Linked DNA regions of Homo sapiens. The protein of the gene in region 1 binds, or shares a complex with, the protein of each later gene. Each region holds a gene or a part of one and is shown on either strand. Other genes may lie near its edges. A codon is read from its position in the direction of its gene.

Region 1 (3,748 bases):
TGATGAGACGAACAAAAAGCCATAGGCCATTTGACTGACTGGCTTATATATATGACTTGATAGGAAATAGAGCGGCGGCGTGGCATGATGCGTCAGCGAGCACAGGAGAGAAAAAATGAAGAGATGGAAGTCATGGAAGTGGAAGATGAGGGTCGTTCTGGAGAGGAGTCAGAATCAGAGTCTGAGTATGAAGAGTACACAGACAGTGAAGATGAGATGGAGCCTCGCCTTAAGCCAGTCTTCATTCGAAAGTAAGTATCTCACAAGCCAGATCTGAATCCACTTAATTACCACTTTCCAGGCCTGGAGACAAAAGTCTGTTTTCTGTCTTGCTATTCTGAAATCTAAACGCTGAGTGAAAGTGCTTTTGCTAGTGCTCTACCCTTGGCAGACTAGCTGCTGAGGAATATCTTGGCGTTAGCAGAGAACCTGAGTTTGTTTTCACATCTCTTTTTTCAGTAATAGAGCATATATCTGTCCAAGGCCTTTTTTTGTTTGTTTGAGACAGAGTTTCGCTCTTGTTGCCCAGGCTGGAGTGCAATGGCATGATCTCGGCTCACCACAACCTCCACCTCCTGGTTTCAAGCAGTTCTGCCTCTGTCTCCCGAGTAGCTGGGATTACAGGCATGCGCCACCACGCCTGGCTAATTTTGTATTTTTAGTAGAGAGGGGGTTTTTCCATGTTGGTCAGGCTGGTCTCGAACTCCCAACCTCAGGTGATCCGTCCTCCTCAGCCTCCCAAAGTGCTAGGATTACAGGCATGAGCCACGGCACCAAGCCAAGGCCATATATTTTTAAGCACAAAATTAAACTCAACGAGCAAATTCCTATTCCTTTCCTGATGGCTAGAAATCCTACTGCTTAGAGGCCAGCAGGTTCTTTGCTGTCTAGGCAGTTCTCAAAGATGAACATGATTTTAGTCCTCTAAAGACCTGGGATGATGGCTGGGCACGGTGGCTCACGACTGTAATCCCAGCACTTTGGGAGGCTGAGGTAGGTGGATCAGGAGGTCAGGAGTTCAAGACCAGCCTAGCCAAGATGGTGAAACCCCATCTCTACTAAAAATACAAAGAAATTAATCAGGTGTGGTGGCAGACTCTTGTAATCCCAGCTACTCAGGAGGCTGAGGCAGAGAATTGCTTGAACCCAGGAGGCGGAGGTTGCAGTGAGCCAAGATCACACCACTGCACTGCAGCCTAGGCGACAAGTGAGACTCCGTCTCAAAAAAAAAAAAAAAAAAAAAGACCTGGGATGACTCAGCGTTTTTTGCTCTTTGAAAATAATAGAGCCAAAGATTGTTTGGTTTTTGTCTGATTTGGATGGGACTAGGTCTAGGGGAACAAAGCACTCCACTCTAAGGACTTTGGGCAATTAACAGGATCTCTGTGATGCAGGAAGGACCGAGTGACAGTTCAAGAACGTGAAGCCGAAGCATTGAAACAGAAGGAGCTGGAGCAGGAAGCAAAACGCATGGCTGAGGAAAGGCGCAAGTACACACTCAAGGTACTGGGGAGTGGTTGCAAGGAATGAGTACAAGAAATAGTGTAATCAGGTTTGTCTGAGGAGAGTAAGGAAGTCCAAGCTGAATTGTTCTCCCTATCCAGATTGTCGAAGAGGAAACCAAAAAAGAGCTGGAAGAGAACAAGCGATCCCTGGCTGCATTGGATGCACTCAATACTGATGATGAAAATGATGAGGAGGAATATGAGGCATGGAAAGTTCGAGAGCTAAAAAGAATCAAGAGGGACAGAGAAGATCGAGAAGCGTGAGTAAAAAGATGAGCCTAGAGTTAATGCTGCTAATGGAACAGGTTTCTAGCAGGATAGCTCTGAGACTCATTACCTACTGTGAGTTCCATTCTAGCCACCTTCAGAGTTCTTGTTGCTTTGTGAGTTTCCTATAATTGGAATATGAGTTTCACTTGCTACAGTGAAATCAGGGAAGAGAAAAACACTTTGTCGATGTGTGTCCATAATAGAGTGCCAGCCAGTGCTCCCTTTAGTTTCCTAGTAGACACAAAAATTAGTAACTGTTAGTAGTTATCTCTTCTTGTGTACAACCCAACCCACAATTGAGTGACTTGAAACTATAATTTATTACTTTTCACAACTTTGGAGGTTGGCTGAACAGTTCCTCTACTGATTTCACCTGGGCTTACTTATGTAGTTGCATCCAGCTGGAAGGTTGACTGGGCTGGAAACTTAAAAGGGCTTCACTCACATGTTAGTAGTAGGTGGTGGCTATCAGTTAGGATACCTCACTTATCCTTCACTGGATTAGACTGGCTTCCTTACATAGCAGTCTCAGGGCACCATTCTAAGAGGGCAAGGTCTTCTGACATGTCGGTTCCAGAACTCATACATCGATCTTGCCACATACTGGTCAAAGCAAGTCACAAGGCCAACCTAGCTTTAAGCAGGTGGAGAAACAGACTCCACCTCTGCAGAGGAGGAGCAGCAAAGTCATACTTTTTGAAAAGGGGCATACATACTGTGAGGGGAAGAATTTGTGGCACTTAAATAATCTACACTGTGTTAGAGCAGAATCTTTTTTTTTTTTTTTTGACATGAAGTTTCACTTTTCACCCAGGCTGCAGTGAAGTGTCACAATCTCAGCTCACTGCAGCCTCCGCCTGCCAGGTTCAAGTGATTTTCCTGCCTCAGCCTCCCAAGTAGCTGGGATTACAGGCATGCGCCACCATGCCTGGCTAATTTTCGTATTTTTAGTACAGACAGGGTTTCACCATGTTGGTCAGGCTGGTCTCGAACTCATGATCTCAGGTTGTCCACCCAACTCGGCCTCCCAAAGTGCTGGGATTATGGCATGAGCCATCATGCCCGGCCCCAGCAGAATCATTTCTGAGCTGCATCACTCATTCCTGTAAATTACTAGGTATGAGAGGGTAATCCCAGATTACAAAGGAAACCATCAATAGATAACTCTAGGCTGGGCGTGATGGCTCACACCCATAATCCCAGCACTTTGGGTGGCTGAGGCAGGCGAATCACTTCAGGCTGAGAGTTCAAGACCAGCTTGGCCAACATGGTGAAAACCTATCTCTACTAAAATACAAAAATTAGCTGGGTGTGGTGGTGTGTGCCTGTTATTCCCAGCTACTCGGGAGGCGGAGGCAAGAGAATCGCTTGAACCCGGCAGGCAGAGGTTGCGGTGAGCTGAGATCGTGCCACTGCACTCCAGCCTAGGTGACAGAGTGAGACTCTATCTGGAAAAAAAAAAAAAAGAAAAAAAGAAAACTTGCCTGAGTATGAGCTACACACAGTAGATAACTCCATACTCAGCCTGTAATTTTTTGTTTTTGGTTTTTTTTTTTTTTTTGAGACACAGTCTCACTCTGTCGCCCAGGCTGGAGTGCAGTGGCGCAATCTTGGCTCACTACAACCTCCACCCCCTGGGAGTCAAGCGGTTCTCCTGCCTCAGCCTCCTGCGTAGCTGGGACTACAGGTATATGCCACCACGCCCAGCTAATTTTTGTATTTTTAGTAGAGGTGGGTTTTCACCATGTCGGCCAGGCTGGCCTTGAACTCCTGACTTCAGGTGATCCACCCACCTCGGCCTCCCAAAGTGCTGGGATTACAGGCATGAGCCACCACGCCTGGCCCTCAGCCTGTAGTTTCTAAGATTTTTATCCTGGACCTGTAGGAGTAGGAGTCTAAGTGCCCTTTAAAATTGTACACAAGGCCGGGCGTGGTGGCTCACGCCTGTAATCCCAACAATTTGGGAGGCCGAG
Region 2 (3,748 bases), on another chromosome or scaffold:
ATTATGTCTGTCTCCTATACTTGTTTGTGATTTCCTCGAGAATCGGTAATACGGTAATAAGCTGACATTTTCTAGGTGTTTACCATGCAGCAAGTGCTGTGTTCAGAGATCTGCATGCATTACGTTCTTTCACTCTTATATTATAGTCACCATTTTACAGATAAGCAAAGTTTAGAAAATTAAGTAACCTCTCCAATGTCATAGTTAATGGGCAACAGAATCTGGATGTGAACCCAGATCTTACACCTCTTAACCACCACCTTTTGTTGTTTGATTTTCACCCCTGAGCGTCCAGTGCCTACCAACATATCAGGCACTCACTTTTGCTTAATATGTATTTAGTGAATCTGTGAAATCCTTTTTCAGGGAAAAATTACCAAAACTGAGAAAGTAAAGTAGAAGATTAATACAATCAGAACAGATAAAATACAAACTTGGCAGGGTGTGGTGGCTCATGCCTGTAATCCCAGCACTCTGGGAGGCCCGGGGGGGGAGGGGATTACCTGAAGTCTGGAGTTCGAGACCAGCCTGGCCAACATGGTGAAACCCCATCTCTACTAAAAATACAAAAATTAGCCAGGCGTGATGGCACATGCCTGTAATCCCAGCTACTCGGGAGGCTGAGACAGGAGAATCACTTGAACCCAGGAAATGGGGGTTGCAGTGGGCCGAGATCGCACCACTGCACTCCAGCCTGGGCAACACAGAGAGACTCTGTTTCCAAAACAAAAAACAAACAAAAAATACAAACTCAAGGGCTCAAAAGCAAAAATCTGGAGTGGAACTCTCTAGAAATGAGATACATTGTGTACACCCCTCTTAACCAAAGCCCAATTCTAAACCGCCAAAATTAAACCTCTTATATTAGCTAGTGAACATTGCACTCACTTGAAATCTTCATTTTTGATAAACTCTACAATGATATCCTTCTCGGGTTGAATTTGAAGCATCTTCAAGGTTAAACACAGAAAGGGTGTTGGTTTTATGTTGCCACCATAGACGCCACCCACAAACCTTAACTCCATGGCTTTATCGACTACAAGTTCAGCTAAAAAACAAAAACAATACAGTAACATATTAGGGCTAAGCTCTTCCTAGTTGGAGTGGAGTTAGTTCAAGCTTTGGTTCTCCTAAATATACATCAACAGTGTAATATTAGGAGAACGAATGTGTATTAATAACAGTAACGACAACAGCTAATATACATTGAGAATGGATAATAAAATAGGTACCCTGCTAAGCTTTTCATATTATCTCACTTAACCTTTTTTAACAAGTCATGAAGAAAGTTCTAGCAATGTTCTTATTTCCAGGTAAGGAAAATGAGGGCTAAGAAAGGTAAAGTGACTTGCTCAAGGTCCACAGATTGTCACAGGACATGGATTTAAAGCCACAATTCAAATCGGAAGATTACCTGGAAGACTTCTCTGAAGCACTGATATTTATAAATACTGGAACCGGCCCAGATCTAAGAATAGTAAGATCATGAATTTGGTTTCAGGCATATTAACGTTAGGTCCTTAAAGACCTTCAACAGATTGTGTCAAAGTGTTATATCCGGATCCCTGAGCTTAACACTGTTGCAACCCAGCCTGCTATCATTAAATACGGAATAACTCACAACACCCAACTGAGACAGCCTTCAGAATATGACCTTACCAGATTCATCTGTGCCTCTAATACTCAACACAAGACGAGGCACTTAGCAGGCACTCAAAATTTTTCTGAATGATCGACATACTCCGTTCCAGTACCACCCCCAGAGGCCAGTCGCTAGTCCTACCCGCGCTCGGTCAGGAGAAATGGGCCACAAGGGGGCTGAGAGGCGCTCCGCGCGCTTCCACTTACCTGTAAGTCCAAAGCACTCCTCTTTCCAGTACTTGGACTCATAGATTCGCGTTCGAATGATCTTCTCCACCAGATATTGAGGGTTGGTGCCATGGATGCTGTGCGCATCCTTCACTGTACGGTTAGCCATTTTAGAATGCCTTCAATTCTATTTCCGTCGGATCCTTTAATGCCTCACATCCAGGTTCAGAAAAAGCACCTAGAGGAATGGAGAAAGGTGGAAGAAGTTTCACTAAACAGCTTAGGCGACCATCTTGAAGCCGGAAACACCGTAGTGTAAAGGGCTTCCGCTCCCCGCGTCGCCTATCGAATCAATGATGGCGGCTGCATGTTAGCGGATGTACGTCATGCGCCCCTCTTAGGTGTACGGAGTGGGCGGGGCGAGCTAGTTGGTGTCGCAACGAAGGGACGGTCTGGGGGCGGGGCCACGCCGATTGGCGCGAAGTTTTCTTTTCTCCTTCCACCTTCTTTTCATTTCTAGTGAGACACACGCTTTGGTCCTGGCTTTCGGCCCGTAGTTGTAGAAGGAGCCCTGCTGGTGCAGGTTAGAGGTGCCGCATCCCCCGGAGCTCTCGAAGTGGAGGCGGTAGGAAACGGAGGGCTTGCGGCTAGCCGGAGGAAGCTTTGGAGCCGGGTGAGTGTGGCGTCCAGCGGGCTGCGAGGGACTCGGGGGAGGGCGCATCGGAACCTCTGAAACTGAGGACGTTCTCTGTAGACTCAGTCATTGATTCTTTTAGCTGACATGTACCAAGCGCCTGTTCAGTGCCAGGCACTGTTCTGAACTGTTAAGAGCGTTCCTCTGTTCCACACTCCGATTCCTAAAAGGCTTCCCGCGCTGCAGGGAACTGAGTTTGCAGGGGGGAAGGCGGAAGCCAACAGCCTAGAAGCAGGAGCATTCCTGCCCTCCGCACCCTGATGCTCAGTGATGACTTTCCCTCCATCTGCATTTGTAAAGCACTCTACTTGTTTCGTTCTTTGAGCTATAGTGTAGGAACCACTACAGGGAAGGCGGAGCAGAGGTTATTACCCCATTTTACGGACGTAAATTGCGCCCAGGGAGGGACGTGTCTTAGGTCGCTTTTCGTGACTAAGCAGTCTGGGCTCCTACCCAGATCTTTTTTTCAGATGAGCTCCTAACTGCTGGGCTGTCTGTCATTCACCTTCTTTTCAGAAGAGAAGTCTGGTGGCCCCCTTCCTACTTCTCTTTTCTAACCCCGGAATTGAAGAGTCTTCTGCTGTGACAGTTGGAAAAGGCATTCTTATCCTGATCTATTTGTGAAACTGCAATGATTATATACGATTCTAGTTGTCTGTAACACATGAATAATAGTACCCTCGTCTCTGCTGTGTTAGGTGGGCTGGAAATGCCAAAGGAGTTTCCAATATGACAGAATGGTTTAAGTCCCTTTGCAACAGTTTTTAACTTTAATGGAGGGCAATATGTGGACTTTAGGAGGTTTGTGAATCTGCCGAAATTGAATGCAAAATTTTGCTTGAATTATGTTAGTTCCATAGTATTCATCAAATGATACTTAATAAATAAAACCACTGTACCTTACAAATAAATGCAAGGGATTAAGGTAGTGGGAAAGTGGATTTACCATTTTGCATTTTTTCACTTAATCTTCCATTATCCTAAAATAGTGCCTGGCACACGATGGGTACTTAATAAATATTGGTTGAATAAACGGAAGATTCTATTTTCTCCATTTTGTGGGTAAGCAAATTGAGGCCCAATCCACAATGTTCAGTCAGTGGCTGGGAAGCCTGATTTATTGTAATAAGTACACCAAAAGCAAGCTCTCAGTTACATATTAACATTATCCAGTTTCACACAGTGTGTTGTAAGGTGAAGTAGTTAAGAGCACAGTAATTGCAGTCTGGCTTTTCCGGGTTTGAG
Region 3 (3,748 bases), on another chromosome or scaffold:
CACCATGTTAGCCAGGATGGTCTCGATCTCCTGACTTCGTGATCCGCCCGCCTCCGCCTCCCAAAGTGCTAGGATTACAGGCGTTGAGCCACCGCGCCCAGCCCATAGACTAAGGTATATGTTTAACGTTCTAGGACCACAGTAAAACATGAACGAAAAGGACCGATGTTGAAAGACCAGGGAGTGGAGAAACAACAAAAAAAGCAAAAGAGAGGAAGCTAGGAGCTGCTTCTGAATCCCTGAACAGCTCCCCGCAAGTTACTTTTCATATTTTGTAGCTGATCAAAACAGTCTACTTTCCCCTTTCCTTATAACTGATACAATCCATTACAAACCTTTGGAATTCATTTTTTCCCAAATCTAGTTGGATTCAGGTTCTCCAGCGACACCTTAACTTTGGATCGTGGAGGAAGGTGCATTTCGGAGGATCAGTCCAGTACTAGAAAAACTATATACGAGGCCAGGCGCAGTGGTGGCTCACGCCTGTAATCCCAGCACTTTGGGAGGCCGAGGCAAATGGGTCACTTGAGGTCAGGAATTGAGACCAGCCTGGCCAACACAGTGAAAACCCCTCTACTAAAAATGCAAAAACTAGCCGGGCGCGGTGGCACACGCCTTTAATCTCAGCTACTCGGGAAGCTGAGGCGTGAGAATAGCTAGAACCAAGGAGGAGGAGGCTGCAGTAAGCCGAGATCAAGCCGCTGCGCTCCAGCCTGGGCGACAGCGAGACTTCGTCTCAAAAACAAAACAAACAAACAAAAAATACATACCAGATAAATTTGGTAAGCTTTAAAACTTCCCCCACGTCTGGGCCGGGCGCGGTGTCTCACACCTGTAATCCCAACACTTTGGGAGGCCAAGGCGGGTGGATCAAGGTCAGGAGATCGAGACCATCCTGGCTAACACAGTGAAACCCCGTCTCTACTAAAAATACAAAAAATTAGCTGGGCGCGGTGGCGGGCGCCTGTAGTTCCAGCTACTCGTGAGGCTGAGGCAGGAGAATGGCGTGAACCCGGAAAGCGGAGCTTGCAGTGAGCAGAGATCGCGCCACTGCACTCCAGCCTGGGCGACAAAGCGAGACACCGTCTCAAAAAAAGAAAAATTAGCCGGGCGTGGTGGCACGCGCCCGTAATCCCAGCTAGTCTACTCGGGAGGCTGAGGTAAGAGAATCGCTGGAACCCGGGAGGCAGAGATGGCAGTGAGCCGAGATCGCGCCACTGCTCTCCAGTCTGGGCGACAGACTGTGACTCCGTCACAAAAACAAAACAAAACAAAACAAAAAAAACTTCCCCCACGTCTGTTTACCATTATTACAAAAAGCTTGTATGATTGCTCACTGCATCTTCTCCATCCTCCAAGGAAACATCATCGCATTTAAACTCTGTCCTCCATTACGCAAACGAGAAAATAGAGGTTCAGAGGAGGAGACAAGTTGCCCAACTACCAAAATACAAATTCAAACCGGAGTCTTGGCTCTAAAGACTGTTTCCGTTATTTACGCTTTTAACACGCTCCATCTTTCTATCTTCCCCTCGGTGTACCATTTACTCTACCCAGAGGGAGACATCCATGCCTCCCGCTGCTTGTCACACCTCCCCCGTCTCAGAGTCCCCAGAAGTTAAAAGCAATCTCCACGAGCCCTATTTTGAGATAGAATATGTTCCCACACTGTGGATGGAAGCGAGAGATAACTGCAGGAAGCCGTTTTGGCGCCTCAACCATCCCTCGGTACCTCCTCCTGGTCCCCAGCCTCTCGGGCCTAGACTGCCCGTGACCCCCGCCAAAGTCTCGGGTCCCCCTTCCATATGGCCGGTCTCCGCCTCCCCGGGCCCGGGGAAGTCTCCAGGCTGTTTTTTTACCCTGCAGCGAGAAGGATGGTGTGGATATCCAACGGATGCTACCTCCCTTCAAAACTTAAGCCACCACCAACTCCAACATACTGGCGTCCGCCATTAGACCTCAAGACAGGGACATTCTGGTGGCGCGCGGCGGAAAAAGGCACCCAATCCGCGCCTGAAGAATATATATAATTTTTAAAAAATGCTTCCGTCTTGCTTCCACACGGCATTACAAATTATTTAAACATGCTTTATTGCTTTGCTTTTTCCAGGAGAATAGAAAATTAATACGTTTTTAGAAGTAGACTTTAAAAAAAAAAAACCATTAGAGTTCATTGGGCACTTCTGTGGGCAGCCCCAAATAGGCGCCAACGAAGAGGGGGCCTCGCGGGACCGGAAGTGCCGAATGGGGACCAAGATGGCGGACCTTGATTCGCCTCCGAAGCTGTCAGGGGTGCAGCAGCCGTCTGAGGGGGTGGGAGGTGGCCGCTGCTCCGAAATCTCCGCTGAGCTCATTCGCTCCCTGACAGAGCTGCAGGAGCTGGAGGCTGTATACGAACGGCTCTGCGGCGAGGAGGTGCGGGGTCGAGCCTCTTCTTTTTCATGGAGGATCTAGGGAGAGTGGGAGCCTTCAGTCGGGAAATCCGGGCTGTGGGAAACTCTCCTTGCTGGGGGATACAAAAAAGCGGGAAAACAAAGAAGCGGAAGCTAGTCGGGTATATGAGTAGTCCTGTCAACTCTTTTCACGCTGTCGGACGCGCCGAGCTTGTCTTCCCTGATACCTGGGCGATCTGCAGCCTCTCCTCCCTAGACCCCCGTTGATTTCCCTGATCCATGATCACCAGTTTCTCCACGGGAGTAAAGTTAGTCTGAGAGTATTTGCCAAATTGCTTGGTTCTCAAAATAATAAGCGCCCTTTTGCATTGGCTTAATTTACAAATTATGAAACGCTCTCATCCTGTTATTTAAGAGGGAAGCCTTTGCAGATTAACTTCTTGAAGCGTTTTAAGACTTCCTCTTGTGGGGAGTGATTTGGGGGTGTGATTTTAGCGTTTTGGTCAAATGCACATCTTTGTAGAGGTTTAGCTTTTAAGACTCAGACACAATTCTCTAATCTTGGACAAGTCACTTCATCTCTGGTACCCTTGATATTTTATCAAATGAGGGGTGTGGACTATTCTCCAATTCCTTTCAGTTCATAACGTTCTATTTCCTGCCTCCTTTAATTTTCAGTGGCAACTCGATGCTGTCAATTCACTTTCGAATGTCAGTTGGGTTCCTTGCTAGTCAAAAGAGATCTAAGCTCTAAGCTTGTCAGCTGTTTCCCAGACCAAACTTCTAGCAAAGTTGAGCACAAAAGGCAGTTTCAGCCTGAGGGAGAGGTGATCGTTGATATCTTTGAGTATTTTCAAGTATAAACTTGCACTAACTCTAGCAGTTTCTGATACGTTTTTCAGCAAGATGTGTGTGGTGTTTTTTGTTTTGTTTTGTTATTTTTAGAAACAGGGCCGCTCTCTGTTGCGCAGGCTGGAGTGCTGTTGTGCTGCAATCAGAATGGATGAAACCAGAGGCGCACACCACCGTGCCTGGCTAGTTTAGTGTGTGGGGCTTTTTTTGTCTGGCCTCAGCAAGATGTGTTTTAAAATTTAGTATCTTGCGGGGCGCGGTGGCTCACGCCTGCCATCCCAGCACTTTGGGAGGCCAAGACGGGAGGATCACCTGAGTCAGGAGTTCGAGACCAGCATGACCAAAATGGTGAAAACCATCACTACTAAAAATACAAAACTAGCCGGGTGTGGTGACGCATGCCTGTAATCCCAGCTACTCGGGAGGCTGAGGCAGGAGAATTGCTTGAACCTGGGAGGCGGAGGTTGCAGTGAACCAAGATAGCGCCATTACACTCTAGCCTG

What was found.
Region 2: the proteins of MFAP1 (region 1) and PRPF38A are in contact, whole or in part, in a crystal structure (PDB 5F5S), measured with the Homo sapiens proteins. Residues at the interface, in NP_005917.2 of Homo sapiens: Glu275 (codon at 1,701), Tyr276 (codon at 1,704), Trp279 (codon at 1,713), Arg282 (codon at 1,722), Glu283 (codon at 1,725), Arg286 (codon at 1,734), Arg289 (codon at 1,743), Asp290 (codon at 1,746), Arg294 (codon at 1,758), Leu297, Glu298, Lys301; in NP_116253.2 of Homo sapiens: Tyr124, Asn125, Tyr127, Lys129, His143, Asp145, Glu146, Asp149, His153, Tyr169, Val170, Glu172.
Region 3: MFAP1 (region 1) and SF3B3 share a complex: the UniProt entries of both Homo sapiens proteins name them as parts of the spliceosome B complex.

The regions. Positions count from the first base shown.
Region 1 is NC_000015.10:43,811,004-43,814,751, reverse strand, and holds part of MFAP1 (microfibrillar-associated protein 1), read left to right. Parts: intron 1-63; coding exon 64-251; intron 252-1,394; coding exon 1,395-1,503; intron 1,504-1,604; coding exon 1,605-1,765; intron 1,766-3,748. UniProt on the Homo sapiens protein: Involved in pre-mRNA splicing as a component of the spliceosome.
Region 2 is NC_000001.11:52,402,980-52,406,727, reverse strand, and holds the start of PRPF38A (pre-mRNA-splicing factor 38A), read right to left. Parts: upstream 2,127-3,748; 5' UTR 1,979-2,126; coding exon 1,849-1,978; intron 1,049-1,848; coding exon 889-1,048; intron 1-888. UniProt on the Homo sapiens protein: Involved in pre-mRNA splicing as a component of the spliceosome.
Region 3 is NC_000016.10:70,522,040-70,525,787, reverse strand, and holds the start of SF3B3 (splicing factor 3B subunit 3), read right to left. Parts: upstream 1,973-3,748; 5' UTR 1,860-1,972; intron 1-1,859. Other genes in the region: COG4 (conserved oligomeric Golgi complex subunit 4), read left to right, coding at 2,245-2,415. UniProt on the Homo sapiens protein: Component of the 17S U2 SnRNP complex of the spliceosome, a large ribonucleoprotein complex that removes introns from transcribed pre-mRNAs.